Linked DNA regions of Homo sapiens. The protein of the gene in region 2 interacts with the protein of the main gene of each other region in a biochemical or structural test. Each region holds a gene or a part of one and is shown on either strand. Other genes may lie near its edges.

What was found.
Region 1: the proteins of CHFR (region 2) and HLTF form a complex in vitro, tested with the Homo sapiens proteins (one study listed by BioGRID).
Region 3: the proteins of CHFR (region 2) and GRB10 form a complex in vitro, tested with the Homo sapiens proteins (one study listed by BioGRID).

The regions. Positions count from the first base shown.
Region 1 is NC_000003.12:149,083,534-149,091,076, forward strand, and holds the start of HLTF (helicase-like transcription factor), read right to left. Parts: upstream 3,001-7,543; 5' UTR 2,804-3,000; coding exon 2,784-2,803; intron 1,357-2,783; coding exon 1,149-1,356; intron 1-1,148. UniProt on the Homo sapiens protein: Has both helicase and E3 ubiquitin ligase activities. Possesses intrinsic ATP-dependent nucleosome-remodeling activity; This activity may be required for transcriptional activation or repression of specific target promoters.
Region 2 is NC_000012.12:132,877,537-132,884,643, reverse strand, and holds part of CHFR (E3 ubiquitin-protein ligase CHFR), read left to right. Parts: intron 1-6,989; coding exon 6,990-7,089; intron 7,090-7,107. UniProt on the Homo sapiens protein: E3 ubiquitin-protein ligase that functions in the antephase checkpoint by actively delaying passage into mitosis in response to microtubule poisons.
Region 3 is NC_000007.14:50,667,892-50,674,998, forward strand, and holds part of GRB10 (growth factor receptor-bound protein 10), read right to left. Parts: intron 6,768-7,107; coding exon 6,545-6,767; intron 1,973-6,544; coding exon 1,831-1,972; intron 1-1,830.

The DNA.
Region 1 (7,543 bases), on a different chromosome or scaffold from region 2:
AGCACAAATCTGAAACAGAAAAGCTCAGAAATGCATATGAGAGCCAGAGAATATATAGATGTGAAATAAGAACTGATAGAGTTCAAGAATCTATTAGAAAAAATTAGAGGCCGGGTGCAGCATCCCAGCACTTGGAGAGGCCAAGGCGGACGGATCACTTGAGCCCAGGAGTTCCAGATCAGCCTGGACAACATGCCAAAACCTAAAAAAAAATACAAAAAAAAAAAATACAAAAATTAGCTGGGTATGGTGGTGAACGCCAGCAGTCCCAGCTACTCAGGAGGCTGAATTGGGAGAATTGCTTGAGTCTGGGAGGCAGAGATTGCAGTGAGGCCAGATCAGGCCACTGCACTCCAGCCTGGGCAACAAAACGAAACTTGGTCTCAAAAAAAAAGAAAAAAAAAAAAATCCAATTCACTTAAGTGAAAGAAAATCACACTGGCCTGAGAATTCTATGCAACATTAGGATATGGAGATTTTATTACAAAGATTTTATTACAAAGATATATTACAAAGATTTTAAATTCAGCCCAACTGTCATTAAGTCCTTCATAACTTTCATTTTATGAAACTGTCATTCATAAAATGCCACAAGTATGAAAATATAAAAACTTAGGAAATATTGTCTCTTCCTAAGGAATCTCCTAGACAACACATTTCAGACAATCAAAAAACAATTTGAAACGTTCCAATGTAAAGGAAATACAGGAGAAAAACAAATCCAGAACATGAAACTCCTAAGGAATCTCCTGTCGAACATGCTTCAGACACCCTATTGAGAAGCTTAAACATAAGAAACATACGGAGAAATGAAAGAATAAAATCCAGAAGATTCCACAAAACGATCTCCTTTTTGCAACAAATCGATGACATGAACAAGGCGCTGGGGTGTGGGGGTGGGGTGCTACCCATAATAACCAAACATAACGCACTGAGGCCAAGCATATTGGCTCATTCCTGTAATCCCAACACTCTGGGAGGCTGAGGTGGGAGGGTCACTTAAGGTATTTGTTATTTTTTGCGTACAAATATTTAACTAACTTAAAGTAAAATAAAGATTAACCGCACACATCACCTGCGAATTCTCTTATTTTCTAGGTTAACGCCAGAAATATAATCAAAATTTAATTATCTACTATTATACTCACTACTCCCGTGTAATAGCGTAGTCCAACCACATGACCTCTCAAACTTCCAAATAAAACGGAATCTACTTCTTCATCACTAGTTAGAAAGTCATCTGGAGGGATAACATCTTGGAATTCAAAACGTGGAAAGAAAGTTGGATATGAGAGGCGTGGAAAATTTCCATGAACTCCATACTGGACAGTCTGCAAGTACTTCCAAACTGGATCCCTATTTTTTTTTAAAGGCAAAGAAAAACAATATAATATTTAAGTATTTCCAAAGACCATATGAGTAGTTTTCTCATGCTTTACTTCAGCAAATGAAATCTTACATGGGAATCACGGTAAAGATTAATAGTTACTCTCGTTAAAGCAGGAATTGCAGTGAGTGGAGAAGGCTTCTAGGAACTCTACCTGTTTTCAATATTGGCTCTTCTACCTGCCCCCTAGGTATTCAAAATGAAAAGCCTAGTCAGAGTTCACTAACCTCTTTCCCAGTGAAAATCATCTAAATTGATATGTATATGATGTCTGTAACTACAATTATGGGCCGGATGCGGTGGCTCACGCCTGGAATCCCAGCACTTTGGGAGGCAGAGGCAGGTGGATCACCTGAGGTCAGGAATTTGAGACCAACCTGGCCAACATTGTGAAACCCTGTCTACTACAAATACAAAAATTAGCCAGGCGTGGTGGCGCCCATATGTAATCCCAGCTACTCGGGAGGCTGAGGCAGGAGAATCACTTGAACCCGGGAGGCGTAGGTTGCAGCGAGCCGAGATTGTGCCACTGCACTCCAGCCTGGACGACAGAGCGAGACTCCATGTCAAAAAAATAATTTAAAAAATGAAATCATATGCCAAAATTTCAATAGGGATTGAGCTATATAAAAGACTTATAAAAATACAACTATTAATGTACCAGAAGTTGTTTATAATTTTCCAGAAAATACATCCAGCATCCATCACTGTAACTCCCTGCGAGCAGAACACCTATTCTGGTATCCAAACCACGCCACCGTGGGAAATTGGCCCCAAGCCACCCGTACCCGCCTTCCGTCGCCGGTTTAAGCATAACCCCAAACCCATTAGGTGTAACTGTTTCGGGAATGACCATAAATACCAATTTGGACAATGAAAAGTGAAGGGGAGTCTACTGGAGCATTGCAAAAAGTTTCCATTCTCCTAAGAACAGTCGCTTATTTGCGATGCGTTTTCCTTGCAAGTGGCGCATATCTCTACTAGCGCCTCTGCAAATACTTATCTGCACGTCTGTGCATACAGATAAGCTGTGAGCCACTTGGGGACAAGGACTGTCTTACTCGGCCCTCCACCGAGCACAATGCCTGGCGCACAGTGGGTATCTAATGGATGTTTTGTTAAATAAAGCACTGGCCGAGATGCTTTAAGCCCCAGGCCCCCCACAGTCGGTGACAGAGATTTCCCAAGTCCCTAACACGGGACTCGCCCTAGGAGCCCCTACTCGCCAGCGAAGACAATGCATTTATTTCTCCGGCGGCCACATATGCGACCAACAGAACGAATACAGCTGCACAAATCGCCCAGGGAACGCAGAGGAACGCGGGGAAGGTCAGGTTCATTTGGGGACGCCTCCAGGCCGTTAGACCGAGCGCCCCACCCCCTCCGCCCCCTTCACCTCTTGAACATCCAGGACATGGCGCTGAGTGGGATGACAAGAGGAGCGCCTCGGCTCCCCTGGATCGTTTTCGAGCCGCCTCGATACGCCTCCTTCCAGGCCCCGCAGCCCTGAAGCCGGGGACAAATTCCGAGCGCCGGATCAGGAGCGCACGACTGAAAGGTAAGTCGCCGCGAGTCCAGTCAGACGTCGACGCCGTCTCCTTCTGCAACAATCTGGGAGACCAGCGTCGCTCTGTGACTGGCACTAGGAAAGCCCAATCACGAAGAGGAGAGTGCGGAGCCAAACCAGTCAGAGCACAGAAGGGAGGGCAACTCCGCCCCGCTGCCATTCAAAGACGGCGGGGGGTCCGGGCTGCAAGGGTGGTTCCATCCGGGTTCTTCCCCGCCCCCAAGGCGGGCGCGCGGGAAAGCCACGAGGCCCCAGGAGTGCGACTGCGGTGCCTGCGGTGCCGGTGTTTTGTTTGATTCCCTGCCTCAAACGGAGGGAAACGACCTTCCTTTATCCTACGAGTCCTAAGACTGAACCCCATTCTAAAGGCTCTACCGTATCCTTCCTCTTATTTTCTTCTCATCTAATGTGGCACATAATAGGGCCTTATACTAAAGGAGCTCCACGGTTTACGAGACCTAGAGCTACCGGCGAGATACTTTACTTCATTCCCTGTGGTGAACCGTGGGGACTTTCGCTCCAAATTTTCATGTTAAGCCTCAGCGTATGCATGAGACACAACGAGTTTGGAAAATCTTAAATGGAACTTAGAGTCCCCTCCCCACCTCTTTTTGTTATTTTTAAGGAAAATTTTCCTTTCTTGGTGCAGGAAACCCATCACATGTTTATTACAGCTATGGGGGCGTTTGCCTGAAATGGTGGACGGGACCATTTTCCCCGTGGGCACTTGGCTGCTCCAGCCAAGAGGGGGAGGCCCTTGTTTTCCTCAAGGAACTGCAGAGGGGCGCTCTGAGGCCCTCCATGGCTCTCTTTCCAGAGTCTGAGGTGACCGGAAGGAGAATGCGGCCCTGGGACCGTCAACCTTGGACCAGCTGCAGCCGACGCCTGGCAGGGCTGGTCGCTTTGCGTTGAGGAGGCTGCTGTCCCCGAAGCTGGCCTTTTAATCGCACAGGGCAGGAAGCTGGTGGTGGCGCCCAGCTGCACAGGCGGCACCATGTAACTGCCAGATAATACTTGCGCGTCACAGAGAGGTCCATGTTACACGCCTGTCAGCACAATAATATTAGGTGGTCAGCTTTTCTTTTTTCTTTTTTTTGTTTTTTTTTCTTTTTTATTGAGATGGAGTCTTGCTCTGTCCCCCAGGCTGGAGTGCAATGGGGGTGATCTTGGCTCACTGCAACCTCCGCCTCCCGGATTCAAGCGATTCTCCTGCCTCAGCCTCCGGAGTAGCCGGGATTGCAGGAGCCCGCCACCACGCCCAGCTAATTTTTGTATTTTTAGTAGAGACGGGGTTTCACCATATTGGCCAGGCTGGTCTTGAACTCCTGACCTCAGGTGATCCGCCCGCCTCGGCCTCCCAGAGTGCTGGGATTACAGGCATGAGCCACCGTGCCAGGCCGGTAGTCAGCTTTTCAAGACACATTTGTTCATTATCGTAAATAAACTGTAGTGATCTCTAATCATGAACCATGGATGAGCAATAGAATTTGAAACAATGTATTATTTCATTTGACCAAAGTTGATGAGGAAGATAAAGACAATGGCATTTCAAATTATTTTAATTGTTGTATGTTCTTCTTGAAGTGTGTTGAGGCAAATGGCAATACAGTTCAGCTTTTAGTATGCCAGATTTTAAATAAATTCTTGGAAAATATGCCAGAAATTGCTCAAATTGATGTTTTGTAAGAGTAAGAAAGTCATGCTCACTAGACAAAGAAAAAATTCCAAATATGAGAACATAGCTCTTTCAGACTTAAGACTGGCCAGGCGCAATGGCTCACACCTATAATCCCAGCACTTTGGGAGGCCGAGTTGGGTGGATCACCTGAGGTCAGGAGTTCGAGACCAGCCTGGCCAACATGGTGAAAGCCTGACTCTACTAAGAAAATACAAAAATTAAGCAGACGTGGTGGCACGCACCTGTAGTCCTAGCTACTTGGGAGGCTGAGGCAGGAGAATCGCTTGAACCAGGGAGACATGGGTTGCAGTGAGCCGAGATCAAGCCACTGCACTCCAGCCTGAGCAACAGAGCGAGACTCCATCTCAAAAAAATAAAAAGACTTAAGATCTATGAATAATGACTGTCCCATGGTTAAAGAATGTGCTTTGAATGAACTAAAATTTGCTATTTAAAGGAATGGTATGGAAAGGAAAGGAATCCAAAATTTCTCCATCCAGCCACTTCCCAGTCACAAACACACTTCTCATCTGCACCCCCAGCCACACACACACACATGCCCGCGCGCGCGCACACACACACACACACACACACACACACAGAACCTTTATGCAAATTAATCATGTCATGTCACTCCCCTGTTTGATTCAGTGAGCCTGAAATCCAAGAATGGCATATGTGGCTCTTCCTCCCACAGTATGTTTTCTCTATGTTATCAATATTTCACATCCCAGAACCAGGAGTAAAACATTCTTTCCCTTAATCATTCTTTGTTTTATATTTAAAGATCAAGTACAATTTGTACTAGTTTGATTAAAATGTTACAGCAATTACAATTTCAAAACTATTATACTAAATAATGTTTTCTGAAAAATTAACTTTTTTGGTTTTTTCTTGATTTATTCTGATAACAGCATCACAAGTAGATATGAAAAATGAACACTTGTAACTGGAAAATGAACTGTAGGGTGGCTTGTGGGGTTTGGCTGGTGAGTAAGAAGGAAAGTGGCACTAAAAGGACGGTGGGGAAGATAAGGGCCAGGTTACATAGGAACTTAAGAGTCTCCAGTAAAATTTGTGTTTTAACTGCAATGGAAAGCCATTGAATGTTTCGAGCAGGAGGATAACGACTTGATTTAGGCTTTTAAAAATGCTGGCAGCTCTGTGGAGAATTACAGGAAACAAGGATAGAAGCAACTGATAGAAAATTATTGTGTTCAGATAAGAGATGGTGGTGGCTTGGAAAGGGAAGGTGATGAAGCCAAGAGAACCAAAATGTTCACTGATAAATTTAGGTAGGAATGGTATGGAAAGGAAAGGAATCCAAAATTTCTCCAGCCAGCCACTTCCCAGTCACAAACACACTTCTCATCTGCACCCCTAGCCACACACACACATGCCCGTGCACACACACACACACACACACACACAGAACCTTTATGCAAATTAATCATGTCATGTCACTCCCGTTTGATTCAGTGAGCCTGAAATCCAAGAATGGCATATGTGGCTCTTCCTCCCACAGTAGCTTCATTTCTCGGGTCACTTCCCAACCCACCCTGCCTATAATGGCCTTCACTAATTTCTCTAAAAACCATGGACCTGGCAAAATTAATAACAAATCACTTCTTAGTATCTTCTAATAACTAGTTCATAATCAAATGTTCACAATTGTCTCAAAAAAAAAATTTTTTTTTTTCTTGAGACAGGGTCTCACTCCAGTAGCCCAGGCTGGAGTGCAGTGGCGTGATTCGACCTCCTGGGCTCAAGCGATTCTCCAGCCTCAGCCCCCAAGTAGCTGCGATTACAGGCATGGCACCACCACCCCCAGGCTAATTTTTGTATTTCTTGTAGACAGGGGGTTTTGCCACATTGGCCAGGCTGGTCTCGAACTCCTGAGCTCAAGCAATCTGCCCGCCTTGGCCTCCCAAAGTGCTGGGATTACAGGCGTGAGCCACTTTTTCTAGGCCTTTTCTAGGCTGGGTGTGGTGGCTTACGCCTGTAACCCTGGTATTTTGGGAGGCCGAGGTGGGCAGATCACTTGAGGCCAGGAGTTCAAGACCAGCCTGGCCAACATTGTGAAACCCTGTCTCTACTACAAATACAGAAATTAGCAGGGGGTGATGGTGCCATACCTGTAGTCCCAGCTACTTGGGAGGCTGAGGCAGGAGAAGCACTTGAACCCAAGAGGCGGAGATGGCAGCGAGCCGAGATCGTTCCACTGCACTCCAGCCTGGGTGACACAGCGAGACTCCCTCTCAAAAAAAAATGTTTTTTACACTTTGCAAAATAGAATTTTAAAGCCATTGGTGTGGGGGCAGGGACCAGGCAGCAGGGAGGGGCTTTAAGAGAAGAATCTGAATATCTAGAAATCTGGCTTCAATACAGAAACTTTTAAGCTTATATCATAACTCATAGACTGAAGAAAGTAGGATGATGTAAGAGCTTGCTTGTTTGTTCGCTTCTTTCACTCCAAAGGAGATAAAAGTTCAATTGAGGAGAATTTTCAAGAATGTCAGGCAGGAGGGTTTGCAGAGTAAATCCCTTAAGTGGGTCTTAGAGAGAAGACCTAGAATACCATCACACTGGGCCAATCTGCACAAAGGGAGAATGCTAGAAAGTCTAGCAAAGTTTCTGTAGATTACACAAGAAAAGGAAGCTATGCCACATTTCCCAGAGAGTGGCCTCAGTATTCTGCAGATCTCAGAGAGAACCTCAGAGACTAGAAATGTGCCAAGGCAATAAAGGAGTAAAGGTGACTGAGGTGGCTCTGTTAAGGGGACCCGGGGTAGCCTTGTGAGCCTCTAGCCCTGTGAAGGCTGGAGGGCATCATCAGGATTATGGTTCTAGCAAACAAAAGCAGGATGCTGGTCCCCAACGGTGAGGTGAGATGAGTTACATCTGCAATGGG
Region 2 (7,107 bases):
TAAGAGGGCACCAGCCCTGTGACATCTGATTCCCACCTAGTGACCTCATTTAACATTTATCAGCTCACAGGCCCCATTTCCAAATACAGTCACATTGGGGATTAGGACTTAAATATATGAATTTTAGGGGGGTACAGACACTCAGTTACAAACATTCAGTTCCTAACAGTTGTAGAACTTGATTATTTTATTTATTTATTTTATATATATATATGTATTTTTTTTTTTGAGACGGAGTTTTGCTCTTATTGCCCAGGCTGTAGTGCAGTGGTGCCTTCTTGGCTCAACCTCCAACCTCCCGGGTTCAAGCAATTCTCCTGCCTCAGCCTCCCGAGTAGCTGGGATTACAAGTATGTGCTACCACGCTCAGCTACTTTTTGTATTTTTAGTAGAGACGGGGTTTCTCCATGTTCGTCAGGCTGGTCTTGAACTCCTGACCTCAGGTGATCCACCCGCCTCGGCTTCCCAAAGTGCTGGGATTACAGGCGTGAGCCACTGTGCCCGGCCTGATATATTTATTTTTTGAGACGGAGTCTTACTCTGTCACCCAGGCTGGAGTGCAGTGGTGCGATCTTCACTCACTACAACCTGCATCTTCCAGGTTAAAGTGATTCTCCTGCCTGAGCCTCCAGACTAGCTGAGATTTCAGGCGTGTGCCACCACACCTGGCTAGTTTTTTGGTATTTTTAGTAGAGATGAGGTTTTACCATGTTGGTCAGGCTGGTCTTGAACTCCTGGCCTCAAATCAAATGATCCACCTGCCTTGGCCTCCCAAAGCGTTGGGATTACAGCCATGAGCCACCTCGCCCAGACAGAACTTGATTATTTTAAAGCAATGATGTGCCTGCCATTTATAAGGCATTATTTGGGGGAAAAGGGAAAGCCTAGGTAACGTGTAGGAAGGGGTGCAACAACCTTGTTTTCCCAAAGAGCTCTTTATCCAGTCTGGAGTGCAGTGGCACGATCTCGGCTCACTGCAAGCTCTGCCTCTTGGGTTCACACCATTCTCCTGCCTCAACCTCCCAAGTAGCTGGGACTACAGGCACCCGCCACCATGCCCGGCTAATTTTTTTTGTATTTTTAGTAGAGACAGGGTTTCACCATGTTAGCCAGGATGGTCTTGATCTCCTGACCTCATGATCCACCCGCCTCGGCCTCCCAAAGTGCTGGGATTAGAGGCGTGAGCCACTGCGCCCAGTCTTTTTTTTTTTTTTTTTGAGACGGAGTTTCACTCCTATTTCTCAGGCTGGAGTGCAATGATGTGATCTCGGCTCACTGCAACCTCCGCCTCCCAGGTTCAAGTGATTCTCCTTCCTCAGCATCCAGAGTAGCTGGGATTACAGGCACTCACCACCATGCTTGGCTAATTTTTGTATTTTGTAGAGACAGGGTTTCATCATGTTGGCTAGGCTAGTCTCTAAGTCCTGACCTCAGGTGATCCTCCCGCCTCGGCCTCCCAATGTGCTGGGATTACAGGTGTGATCCACCGCGCCCAGCCAAGAGCTCTTTATTCTAAGAGAGTGGCAGAAATGTACATCAACTGCTTGAAAGATTTAACCCACCAAGCGTCAAGCGCAGCAAATGCTGTGAATAGAACTTTAGCACAAAGCATCTCGGTTCCAGATTAGAATGCTGATATTCAGGCCAGGCACGGTGGCTCATGCCTGTAATCCCAGCAGTTTGGGAGGCCAAAACAGGAGGATCTCTTGACCCTATGAGTTTGAGACCAGCTAGGGCAACATAGACCCTGTATCTACAAAAACTTAAAAAATTAGCTGAGCGTGGTGGTGCATATTGGTAGTCTCAGCTACTCAGGAGGCTGAAGTGGGAGGATCACATGAGCCTGGGAGTTCAAGGCTGCAGTGAGCTGTGATTGCTCCACTGCACCACAGCTGGGGTAACAGCGCAAGGCCTTGTCTCAAAGAAAAAAAAAAAAACCTGATGTTCTGGCATGGAGACGCCTCTGTTACAAACTGGCTCTGGCGACACCGTGACTTGCACTGGTTTTGGGGCTTGAAGGAGACTGTCCTGGCAGTTAACGCTCAATGGAATGGGAAGAGCTTGACCACAGGTGATACTTGCCTTGGATACAGTACTTCCAATAGTACAGAATGTTTGCACAAATAAGATTTTTAATATCCGGTTTCATGGCAGTATCATTTACTTGTAGTAAAATTCACCTTTTTTGGGGTTCAGTTCCATGAGTTTTGGGAAATGTACTCACCAGTGCAGTCAAGATGTAGAACATGTTCGTCACCCTGAAAGGTCCCCCTGAGTCCCGGCTCCTGGCAGCCACTGATCTGGTTTCTTTGCCTTCTGCTGCTTCCAGCGTGTCGTGACACAGGGTCACAGGGTGTCTGCCATCATCTTCTGCGCCTGGCTTCTTTCCCTGGCACGCACCTTGTTGCATGGATGAGCAGTTTGCTCCTTTCTGTTACCGGGTAGTGTTCTGTGGTTTGGATGCACCATGGCTTGTTAGTTTACAACCAGTGGATGGACATTTATACTGCTTCCTGTTTTTGTAAGAAATAAAGCTAATATAAACATAAGTGTGCAGTCTTTGTAGGGACATACATTTTTCTCTTAGCTAAGTAACTATGAATGGAATTGCTGGGCCACGTGGCCAGTGTCTGTTTAACTTGCTGAGAAACTGCCGCATTGTTTCCCATGTGCTTGTCCATTTTGCAGTCCCACAGCACAGTACGAGAGTTCCAGGTTTTCCACTTCCCTTTTGGCCACTTGTAGGTGGTCAGTCTTTTTTTTTTTTTTTTTTTTTGAGACAGCGTCTTGCCCTGTCGCCAGGCTGGATTTGCAGTGGCGCAATCTCAGCTCACTGCAACCTCCGCCTCCCGGGTTCAAGCCATTCTCTTGCCTCAGCCTCCTGAGTAGCTGGGACTACAGGCACGTGCCACCATGCCCGGCTAATTTTTTTGTATCTTTAGTAGAGACGGGGTTTCACCATGTTGGCCAGGATGGTCTCAATCTCTTGACCATGTGATCCGCCCGCCTCGGCCTCCCAAAGTGCTGGGATTACAGGCGTGAGCCACCGTGCCCGGCCCGTGGTCAGTATTTTCAGCCAATTCTTATTTGGTGTGTAGTGGTATTTCATGGTTTTAATTTGCATTTCTCTGAAGATTAATGATGTTGAGCATTTTGTCATGTGCTTAATTTGCCATCCATATCTCTTCTTTGATAAAGTGTTTAAATTGTTTTAAGTTGCATTATTTACTTTCTATTTATTGAGTTATCAGAGTTCTCTATACATTCTGGATACAAGATCTTTGTCAGATATGTGTTTTACAAATATTTCCACCAGTCCATAGCTTGTCTTTTCATCTTTTTAAACAATATCTTTGAAGAACAGATTTTTACTTTTTTTTTTTTTTGAGATGGAGTCTCGCTCTGTTGCCAGGCTGGAGTGCAGTGGCACGATCTCAGCTCACTGCAACCTCCACCTCCCATGTTCTCCCACCTCAGCCTCTCAAGTAGCTGGGATTACAGGTGCATGCTACCATGCCCGGCTAATTTTTTGTATTTTTAGTCGAGATGGGGTCTCATCCTGTTGGCCAGGCTGGTCTCGAAGTCCTGGTCTGAAGTGATCCGCCCGCCTTGGCCACCCAAAGTGATGGGATTATAGGCGTGAACCACCGCCCCCAGCCTTACTTTTTTTGTTGTTGTTGAGCCAGAGTCTCGCTCTGTCGCCCAGGCTGGAGTGCAGTGGCGTGATCTCGGCTCACTGTAACCTCCGCTTCCTGGGTTCCCACCATTCTCCTGCCTTAGCCTCCCGTGTAGCTGGGATTATAGGCGCCCGCCACCATGCCTGGCTAAGTTTTGTATTTTTAGTAGAGACTGGGTTTCACCATGTTGGTCAGGCTGGTCTTGAACTCCTGACCTTGTGATCCGCCCGCCTCGGCCTCCCAACGTGCTGAGATTACAGGTGTGAGCCACCACGCCTGGCCCAGAATTGACTTTTTTTTTCTTTTTTTGAGTCGGAGTCTTGCTCTGTTGCCCAGGCTGGAGTGCAGTGGCACCATCTTGGCTCACTGCAAGCTCCACCTCCTGGGTTCACGCCATTCTTCTGCCTCAGCCTCCTGAGTAGCTGGGACTACAGGCGCCCGCCATCACGCCCAGCTAATTTTTTGTAGTTTTGGTAGAGACGTGGTTTCACCATGTTAGCCAGGATGGTCTCGATCTCCTGACCTTGTGATCCGCCCCCCCCTTGGCCTCCCAAAGTGCTGGGATTACAGGTGTGAGCCACGGCACCTGGCCCACATTTTACTTTTGACAAACCTCAGCTTATTATTATTATTTTTTCCTGGTTTGTGCTTTTTATATCCTATCTGCGAAGTCCATGCAAGACCCAACGGCACTAAGATTTTTGCCTGTCTTTTCCACTGGAAGTTTCATAGTTTTAGATTTTACATTTGTCTCTGTCTGGCCATCCTTACACAGCCACAATACTGTATTGTTTACTATAGCATGATGGTAAGTCAGTTAAGTAATATGAGTCTTCCAGCTTCATTCTTTTTCAAAATTGCTTTGGTTTTTCTACACGTTTTTTCTGTGAACTTTAGAATCAGCTTGTCAGTGTCTACAAGCCCTCTGGGATTTTGACTGGAATTGCATTGAATGTATGAAACAATCTGGAGGACAGCTGACATTTTAACAATACTGAGTCTTCTGATTCACACACCCATAGGTCAGTGATGGGAGCAAGGCTCAGGCTAAAGCAGATTCAGGGTGTCTTTCTGTGTGGAACGTTTAGGAAAAGTATGTTTGCATGCCACTGTCTCCTGACCAAACCCTTCGCTTTTTTGTCTTCTAGTATCTTTATGTATCCTTATAGATTATTATAGGCAGTAATGATTAATGATGAGATATTAAAACGCCTTTGTTCTTTTGATTTAAGGAGAGGGCAAGTATTGAGGATTTTCCCTCTTGCTTTTGTATTCAGGGCCGGGCGCTGGTGGCTCACGCCTGTAATCCCAGCACTTTGAGAAGCCGAGGCGGGCATATCACGAGGTCAAGAGATCGAGACCATCCTGGCCAACATTGTGAAACCTCATCTCTACTAAAAATACAAAAATTAACTGGCCCTGGTGGTGTGCGCCTGTAATCCCAGCTACTCAGGAGGCTGAGGCAGGAGAATCGCTTGAACCCGGGAGGCAGAGGTTGCAGTGAGCTGAGATCGTGCCACTGCACTCCAGCCTGGGCCACAGAAAGAGACTCCGTCTCAAAAAAAAAAAAAGAAAAAAAAAATCCCAAAGTGTCAGAATTACTGTATTCAGCTATAGATGCATCCCTGTATATAAGATGCAGTTTCTTATACGTGTACAAATGCCTATCGCAGGCCAGGTGCGGTGGCTCAAGCCTGTAATCCCAACACTTTGGGAGGCTGAGGCGGGTGGATCAAGAGGTCAGGAGTTCAAGACCAGCATGGTGAAACCCCGTCTCTACTAAAAATACAAAAAATTAGCTGGGTATGGTGGCGCATGCCTGTAGTCCCAGCTGCTCAGGAGGCTGAGGCAGGAGAATGGCTTGAACCTGGGAGGTGGAGGTTGTGGTGAGCCGAGATGGTGCCACTGCACTCCAGCCTGGGCGACAGTGCGAGACTCCATCTCAAAAAAAAAAAAACAAACAAAAACAAAAAAAAAAACAAATGCCTATCACAGTTGGCTCAGTCACTTTTTCTGTGACTGTCATTGCTTCAATTTTATGTTGATTTATGAAACCTAAGTTTACACAGAAAAGAAATTAAGGACTAAATTAAGATACTGAAGAATTACTTAAGCCCCTGAGTTTTTTTTTTTCTTTTTTTTTTTTTGAGACAGAGTCTTGCTCTGTCACCCAGGCTGGAGTGCAGTGGCGCCATATCGGCTCACTGCAAGCTCCTCCTCCCGGGTTCTCGCCATTCTCCTGCCTCATCCTCCTGAGTAGCTGGGATTACAAGGCGCCCGCCACCACGCCCGGCTAATTTTTTGTATTTTTAGTAGAGATGGGGTTTCACTGTGTTAGCCAGGATGGTCTCGATCTCCTGACCTTGTGATCTGCCCGCCTCGGTGTGAGCCACCGGACCTAGCCAACCCCCTGAGTTTTTTTAAAGTTCTAATAATACTCATCAGGTTAGCTGTGTATGCAAGCATATTGTAAAATTGCTTTTTTTTTTTTTTATTTCCAGTTGGAGTCTAGCTCTGTCGCCAAGGCTGGAGTGCAGTGGCGCGATCTCAGCTCACTGCAACCTCTGCCTCCTGGGTTCATGCGATTCTCCTGCCTCAGCCTCCCAAGTAGCTGGGATTATAGGCAACCGCCACCATGCCCAGCTAATTTTTGTATTTTTAGTAGATATGGGGTTTCACTGTGTTGGCCAGGCTGGTCTCGAACTCCTGACCTCGTGATCCATTCACCTCAGCTTCTCAAAGTGCTGGGTTTACAAGTATGAGCCACTGCGCCTGGCTGTAAAATTGCCATTTAAGAGGCTGTGTGTAACTGGAGGTATTGATGGGTGTCTTTGAGAGGGTGGGGATTCAGAAAGGTTCAGGATGGGCCGGGCGCGGTGGCTCACGCCTGTAATCTCAGCACTTTGGGAGGCCAAGGTGGGCAGATCATGAGGTCAAAAGATCGAGACCATCCTGGCTAACATGGTGAAACCCCGTCTCTACTAAAAACACAAAAAATTAGCCAGGCGTGATGGCGGGCGCCTGCAGTCCCAGCTACTCTGGAGGCTGAGGCAGGAGAATGGTGTGAACCTGGGAGGCGGAGCTTGCAGTGAGCCGAGATGGTGCCACTGCACTCCAGCCTGGGCGACAGAGCGAGACTCCGTCTCAAGAAAAAAAAAAAAATTTCTTTATGTCTTTCTTGGTCAAGTGTTTTTTTTTACATATGTACAATGGGGATCCTGAGTTGGAACCACATACTTTGGTAAACAAAGTGCAGTAGTGTTCACAGTTACCACGATCATATCCCGTGTTGACCCACCCTCTCTTTTTTAGGTTGCGACCTTTCCTTCCCCAGCAATAAACTGGTCTCTGGAGATCACTGTAGAATTGTAGTGGATGAAAAATCAGGTCAGGTGACACTGGAAGATACCAGGTGAGTATGTTCTGAGCT
Region 3 (7,107 bases), on a different chromosome or scaffold from region 2:
CCAATTTTCTTGCCAAAGGCTGAGAGAGCCAGATAATATTTTCATGGTCTTATTTTAGAATGGGTAGCTCTGTAAACAACCTCAGTGACAAAACCCACAGACAGCTTGTCTGGATCCTTATTTGAAGCAGAAGGTCACCAGCGAGGTAGACATCCCAGATGCACTTTAGACATGTGACAAAGTGCACAAGCCCAGCCAGTGCTGGCTCCCAGATGAGGGACACTTACCTCACCTTCTAAGTTTTGATAGTGCCATAATGCAGCCTGCTCCGGGGGCCTGAGGTCAGAACGGGACCCACACTTGGGAGCCAGCGGGTATTGGAAAAAGGTCTCTCTCTCAAGAGGACAGACCTTGCATGGCACAGGACAGGCAGATTTGCAGAGAAAGGGATGGCTGGCCTGTCTTGCTTGAGAACAGCAAAGGTAGGGAAGTGAGAGCAAGTAGGGAGAAGAGATGATTCAAGTAGAAGGGCAAAATGACTTCTAAATATGCATTTAGCAGAAGGAAAGTCAAAGTCCCGGGAAGCCAATCAGCACAGTGGCTGCAATCACAGGCTCCGATTCTGAGGCCGGGTCACACTCAGCCGCACCATCAGGTCTCAGCCACACTCAGCTCAGCTGCTTACAGGGGCCTCCCTTCCCTCAACTGTGGAACAGAGGGAACATGCGTACTTAATTCATACGGGATGGCATGAGGAGTAAATGAACATATAAATAAACAAAAAATAAACATATCCACCACTTACGACAAGGCCTGGCACACAGAAATCCCTCACTCCATAAACATCAGATGGCGCAGTTGTTCTAATGATCACCTCCACCCCTAGGGGTCTTCCTCCAGAGGCTGCAGCCCATCCTGGCTCACAGCCCTGCCAACCGGTGGGGAGGAACTTTCAACCCCTTTCTCTGCCAGTTTCTCTGCTAAGCTGACTTGTTGGCTGTTTGACCTTGGACACATTACTGAAATGCTCTGTGCCTCAGTTTCCTCATATGGGGACAATGGTTGTGTCCTATCTACTTCATGGATCTACTTTAAGTAGAAACTACAAGTTCAAAAAGGAGGTTATTGCCCTGCGGGTCCAATGGAAACTCTTCTGCTTTCGGCAGATCATATTCAAAGTCAGGACTACAAGACAGAAACTCTTCAACTCCTGTGTACTGACATCCAGGTGCCCGGGTGAGCCCAGCATTTTCACACCTATTATTGAGCCAGTGGTGAAACTTTTTCAAAGAACTAAGATTCATCTTTAAACATCAAATCATTGTTATTATTTGCCATTTTTTATGAGACTTTTTCTAAAATATAAAGATAAAACAGAGTTTTGATCAATAATGAAAAGAGGTTTAATTGGTTCATGGTTCTGCAGCCTGTACAAGAATCATGGTGCGGGCATGTGCTCGGCTTCTGATGAGGACTTAGGAGCTTACAATCATGCCAGAAGGCAAAGCAGGAACTGGCGTCTCGCACAGCAGGAGTGGGAGCAAGGGGAGGAGATGACACGCACTTTTAAACAACCAGATCTCGTGAGAACTTACTATTGTGAGGACAGCACCAAGCCATGAGGAATCTACCCCTAAGATCCAATCACCTCCCACCAGGCCCTGCCTCCAAAATTGGGGATTACAATTCCACATGGGATTTGGAGGGGACAACATCCAAACTGTATCGGCCTCATAGGACAACAAGTACTGTGACAACAAGAAAAGAACTGAGAGAGAAGATCCCAGGACTTCCCGCCCTTCTTCCCAAAGTAATAATCTGGCACATCTGTGCAGATCCCAATAATCTGGCATATCCCTCAGCCTGGGCTCCAGCCAGGGGCACACTCACCTGCTTTGCGGCGGCCTGGCTCGGAGGTAAAGAACCCGGCGTGAGCACAGGGGGGCTCCCAGGGCCACAGAGTTCAGGAAAAGGATTGGGGATGGCCGGCAGAGATGAGGTTCTAAACTGCTGGTCTTCCTCCTGAAGGCGCCTGGAAGGCAGGGATAAGTGCCTGTTAAAAGCTGCCATTCCCCACATGACCCAGCCTTACCACTGTGGTGATACACCCAGAAAGCAGGACACAGGGCTTCTAGGAGTCACTGGCATGCCCACGTTCACAGTGGCATCCTTCACAAAAGCCAAAAAGTAGAGGCATCCCAAGGGTCTGCAGATGGATGAATGGATGAACAATATGTGGCATATCCATACCATGGAACACTACTCAGCCATGAAAAAGGAAGCACATTCTGACACAGGCTACGACACGGATGAACCCTGAAGACATTATGCAGAGTCAAACACACCAGTCACAAAACCAGAGACACTGTGTGATTTCACCCAGTGAGGTAGGTAGTGTATTCAAACCCATAGAAAATAGAAGGGTGGCTGCCAGGGGACTAAGGGGAGGGCAATGGGGAATCGCTGTTTATTGGGGACAGAGTTTCAGTTTCATAAGATGAGAAAGTTCTGGAGATTGTACAACCATTGTGAGTGTGCATTAATACTACCGAACTGTACCCTGAAAAAAACAGTTAATATGGTAAATTTTATGTTACATGTATTTTACTAAAACGAAAACTTTAAAAAAATTACAAGTTGTCATTCTCAGACCCAAAGGGTATTGGGTATCAATTCTCTTCTTCATTAGGCATCGGGGGCGGGGGGCGGGGTGCCGAAGTTTTGTTGTCCTGGGTGCGTGCTCATCTCAGGCAGCATTCAGTGCCTGACATGGCATCAGCTCCAAATACCTCATCCGTTTGATCAGTGAATACCTGATGTGTGAAAGTTTTCTGAATATGAGCATTTTCATGAGAACCAAGTGTTTTTCAATGTCCTTGAAATGAGCATTAATCTAATCAAATGAAAATACAAGAAAAGGCTGTGTGTTCTCATCTGAATTATGCAATGGATGGTTACTTATATAAAAAGGTTGTTGACACTGAATTAACTGGAAATTATAGCTTCATGTATCTGTCCTCGCAAAGCCTGTGTCCACATTAGAAACACACCTTGGAAACACACGCTGAATCCACACACCACCTCTACTTTCCTGGCACATCTCCAGGGGCATCTGTTCCCTCCTCCGAAAAATGCACAACCCACTTGTCACACAACTATGCAACACACACACAGTATGACGAATCAGAAGCAACTGTGAACAGCAGAGAAATCAAGTTCAAAGTCAAAGCGAATGTCAAGTGTCTGGCACCTCCCCTCTGTAGAGTAACTTCTGGCCCACACCTCCAGGGCACTCCTGGACACACAGCCTCCTCCACCCTTCCTGAGGCCACGCGGCCCTGTCTGCAGCCTCCTACCTTCAAGGAGAGGGGAGCAAACCTCACATTATCTTCACTCGGCATTTCCAATCCCTCCCCATGTTTAAACATACCTCAGAAACCCCCATCATAGGCTGTGTCCTCAAGTAATTTTTTTGACAATTTTTACGATTTCACAAAATCAACAATCCGTTAGCTTTCCCAGGAGATTTGCCACTACAGAAACACATTTTGTGACTGTATTACTTTTTCTCTTTTACCAACTTTCCCTATTTTTTAAAGGAAGATCCAGCTAACTATCCCACGTAGACCAGCAAATGATGCATGGATTTAAAATTACGAGAACTCACATGGCATGAAGGGAATCAGTGCTGCGAAATACAGGAAAGCCGTTCCTATAATGGTTTGATGACATGCCATAAAGTTTATTTTTACTGTGAACAAATCCCACTCTTCCCATAACAGCTTCAGCCTTGGCAAGGCGTCCAACTGAAACGTCTGGCCATTGTCATACAGGAGGAGATGGATAAAACGGGTGGCCAGTGCCACTTTCCCATCCACGGCTTCTAGCCAGTGACTTCACCCCAAAAAGATAATCTGACGTTTTAGTGTCCACAAAAGCTTCTCTATTTATTGGGTTGTTTTGAGCATTTTAAAAAGTCCTGTGTTGACTTTAAAGCGGCTCAGAGACATCGCCTAAGGCAAGACTAAGGGATATCACACAAAGACAAAAAATCCCCACCAAAGAGGCTCACAATAGAAGGGACAGTGACTATGGAGAGGGGTGCTGAGATTTAGGGATGTCAGGGATGGTGGCAGGAACTGCAGAGCTGAGGGGCGAGGTCCTTCTTCTCTGTGCCTTGGCTCACTTGTGTTTGTCTAGAACACATGCGTGGCCCTTGCACTCTCAAAAGCCTGGGTTCCTTCTCTGTACAGAATCGGCTCACCCATCGGCTTTCCTATGTGCAAAGCCTTCTTGCCCTTCCCAAGTGTCTCCTCTGCCCATACCCTGCCTGCCCCCCAGCTCCCTTCGGGTTGCATGGCAGCCCCCGGTAAGTTCCTCTGCAGCGTGGACCATGCTCCGTGACCTCTGGTACCCAGCAGCCTGCTCCATGGCCACTTCCCACCTGATGTGGTGAGCCCAGTTACCGCCCCGCTGTGCCACGGTTTCCTCAGCTGGGAAGCGAGGGTAACCCACACTGCCTCCCTCCGAGGGCACTGATAACAAGGAGGAGCTCATCAGCATCTGCACACAGTAAGCACTCAGCAAATGGCCTCACTTCACAAAATAATCTTTGGTGATTCCAGATTGATCTCCACATTTTTTTTTAATCCACCTGAAAGTAAGAAACAAAACTACTTATCTGAGAGGACACCAGAGAGAAGACATTGGGCCCAAGGAACAGCACCTGTGACCCTGTAGGGAGAGGGCTTTGCTGTCCCACAGAGCAAGCCTGCCCCTCCATCCCAGGGACTTAGCGCAGGTAGTCCCGGGGCACATATGGGCGAGTTCAGCCAGAACTCGAGGTTCAAGGGTCCTGGGCAACTACTCCAGCAGGGAGGCAGGCCTTCTGGCTTTCCAGCCCACCCTCGGGCACCTTCGCCATGCAACTGCACCTCCATATTCCCAGGCACTCCCCAAGGCTACTGTGATGCTCCCAAGAGATGCTCCCAAGAGAAAAACAGCTCTCCCACCAGACTTAACTCCTCAGGAGCTAAGTACAAGGGGTCACGCTTCAAAGAGCAAAGTTGAACAAACCCTGGGACAGGCATCATTCAGCATCAATGAATATGACAAAAAGTGAGAAGTCGGAGGGGAAGCCGGGGTGGGAAGCTGGGGAGGCAGCTGACCACGGGCGCCAGGGCCGCTGCACCCTCTCCCCTCCGTAAGAAACAGCTGCCACCTGGGGCAAGGTGATTATCTGGGCTGCGGAAGACCCAAGATGTCAGACCACAAAGAAAACTCTCAGAAGTTTCTAGAAGCAAGAAGAGCCCAGGAAATGAACAGAGCTCCCCGGAAGATGGGGTGCTGAGACAGAAGGCACCAGAACCCCATCCTGACAGAGGCCAGTGAGGGCAAGGGGCAGTCCCAGCAGAGATGGCTGTACATCCTCCGCAAAGGCCCAGAGAGGCACGCAGGGTCCCACGGAGCCCCACGCCATCCCGACTGCGACAGGGCAGACAGGCGGATCCTTGAGGGCTGCCCCTGGCTCTCAGCTTGATTCTACAAAGATCTTCATTCAGAATGTCTAAGGTACTCTCAGCACCTTCACCTTCGACATGACCATTCTCTAGACACCCTCCTCCCAGGCACTCGAGACAAAATCCAAGTCACCCTCCACACACTCTCTGTCTCCTCACAGCCCTGGCAAAATTCAAGTGCTGGCAAAACGCAGCTGCTCCTCCTCAGCAACGTGCTCAAATCCCCCCTCCTTCTTCATCCTCAGGCAGCGCACAATCATCTCCCATCCGGGGGCTCCTGAGACCACTTCCAAACCGGCCATGCTCTGCCAACCCTGCTGCCCTCTACCACTGCCCCCACGACCCCTGGCAACCAGAATGCTGGTGTCAAAACCCAAACCCAGCCCCTTCACACGCCTGTCCAGAACTCTTTCTCACGTGGCTCCTGAAAAAGGCACACAAAGTGCTTCAGCACCGGCCCCCATCTGCATCATCTCTTCTGCTCACAAAACCTCTGCCTCCATCTATCTGAGCTCCTATCACCCTTTGACATCCGTTCAGAAATCCTACCTCCCAGGAACCTCCCTCAACGTCCCCAGCACGTTCCTCCCTCCAGCCTCCCTGTTTCCACAGAGATGTGCCTACCCCTGAATTAGCAGAGGAATGTGGCAAAATGCAACTCTGAGGGAGGTCTGGGGTTGCACGACAAGCTCCAGGGGGTGCTGTAGCTGCTAGCCTCCCGTCCCTACTCTGGGTAGTGAGGACTTGGGGCATGCAATCAGCTCCATGGCTGTTCTTCCAATCTTTCCAGAGATTTTTCCTCTGGTGGTTTTCCTGCATATCCCTCTACCTAGCACAGTGCCTTGCACATAGCAGGCACTCAATAAAAGGTACTACTGGAATTGAACTGGCTACAAAGTTCAACCCAAGGGCGGCACACTGCACACACTCAGTGTATCCGTTATCCCATCAAAGCAATGTATCTGCCTCTTGACTTTGCAAGACCAACACTATTCCCCCCAACACCATTTAACTCACAGAGAGCAGTGTCCCTGCCGACAGCTCTCATCCTTGGAGAAGGCTCTGCCCATAAGGCCTGGACCTACCTGACAGCGAGGATGTGCACAGGCTGGGAGCGCTGCACCCTCTGCCTCGGGGACACCTGTGGCTGGATGGACCGAGGAGGGCCTGAAGCCCGAGGCTGGCTGCGGGCATGCTGGCCATTCTGCAGGAGGGGCACCGTGTCTGACTGCATGCTGCAGGCCGAGTACAGGCTCTCCAGGGATGCATTCATATCGTTCACCAGGGCTTCCAGGTCCACATCATCCTCTGCACAGAAAAAGGCAAGAGCAAAAAAGAAACTTTAACAATGGAGAGCAATCAAACCCAAATGTACATCTTGGTGATCAGGTTCCAAACCTCAATCCTATTTTTCAAATATTATGGAAGGGGTAGAGGGGAAACACCAAGACAAGTATGACTGTATGGAAGCATGCATATTACATGTATTCATCATGACTGACATTCCAGAGACAATTCAATCATTAGAGCTGGGCTGCATTTCTACCTGTCTCCAGGGAGAAGCCATTCAGAGCATCTGCTCAGCTCCCTTCAGCACCCCCTTCTCTCCTCCCCACCCCCTCCGGTAGGCCGCACACAGCCACAGCTG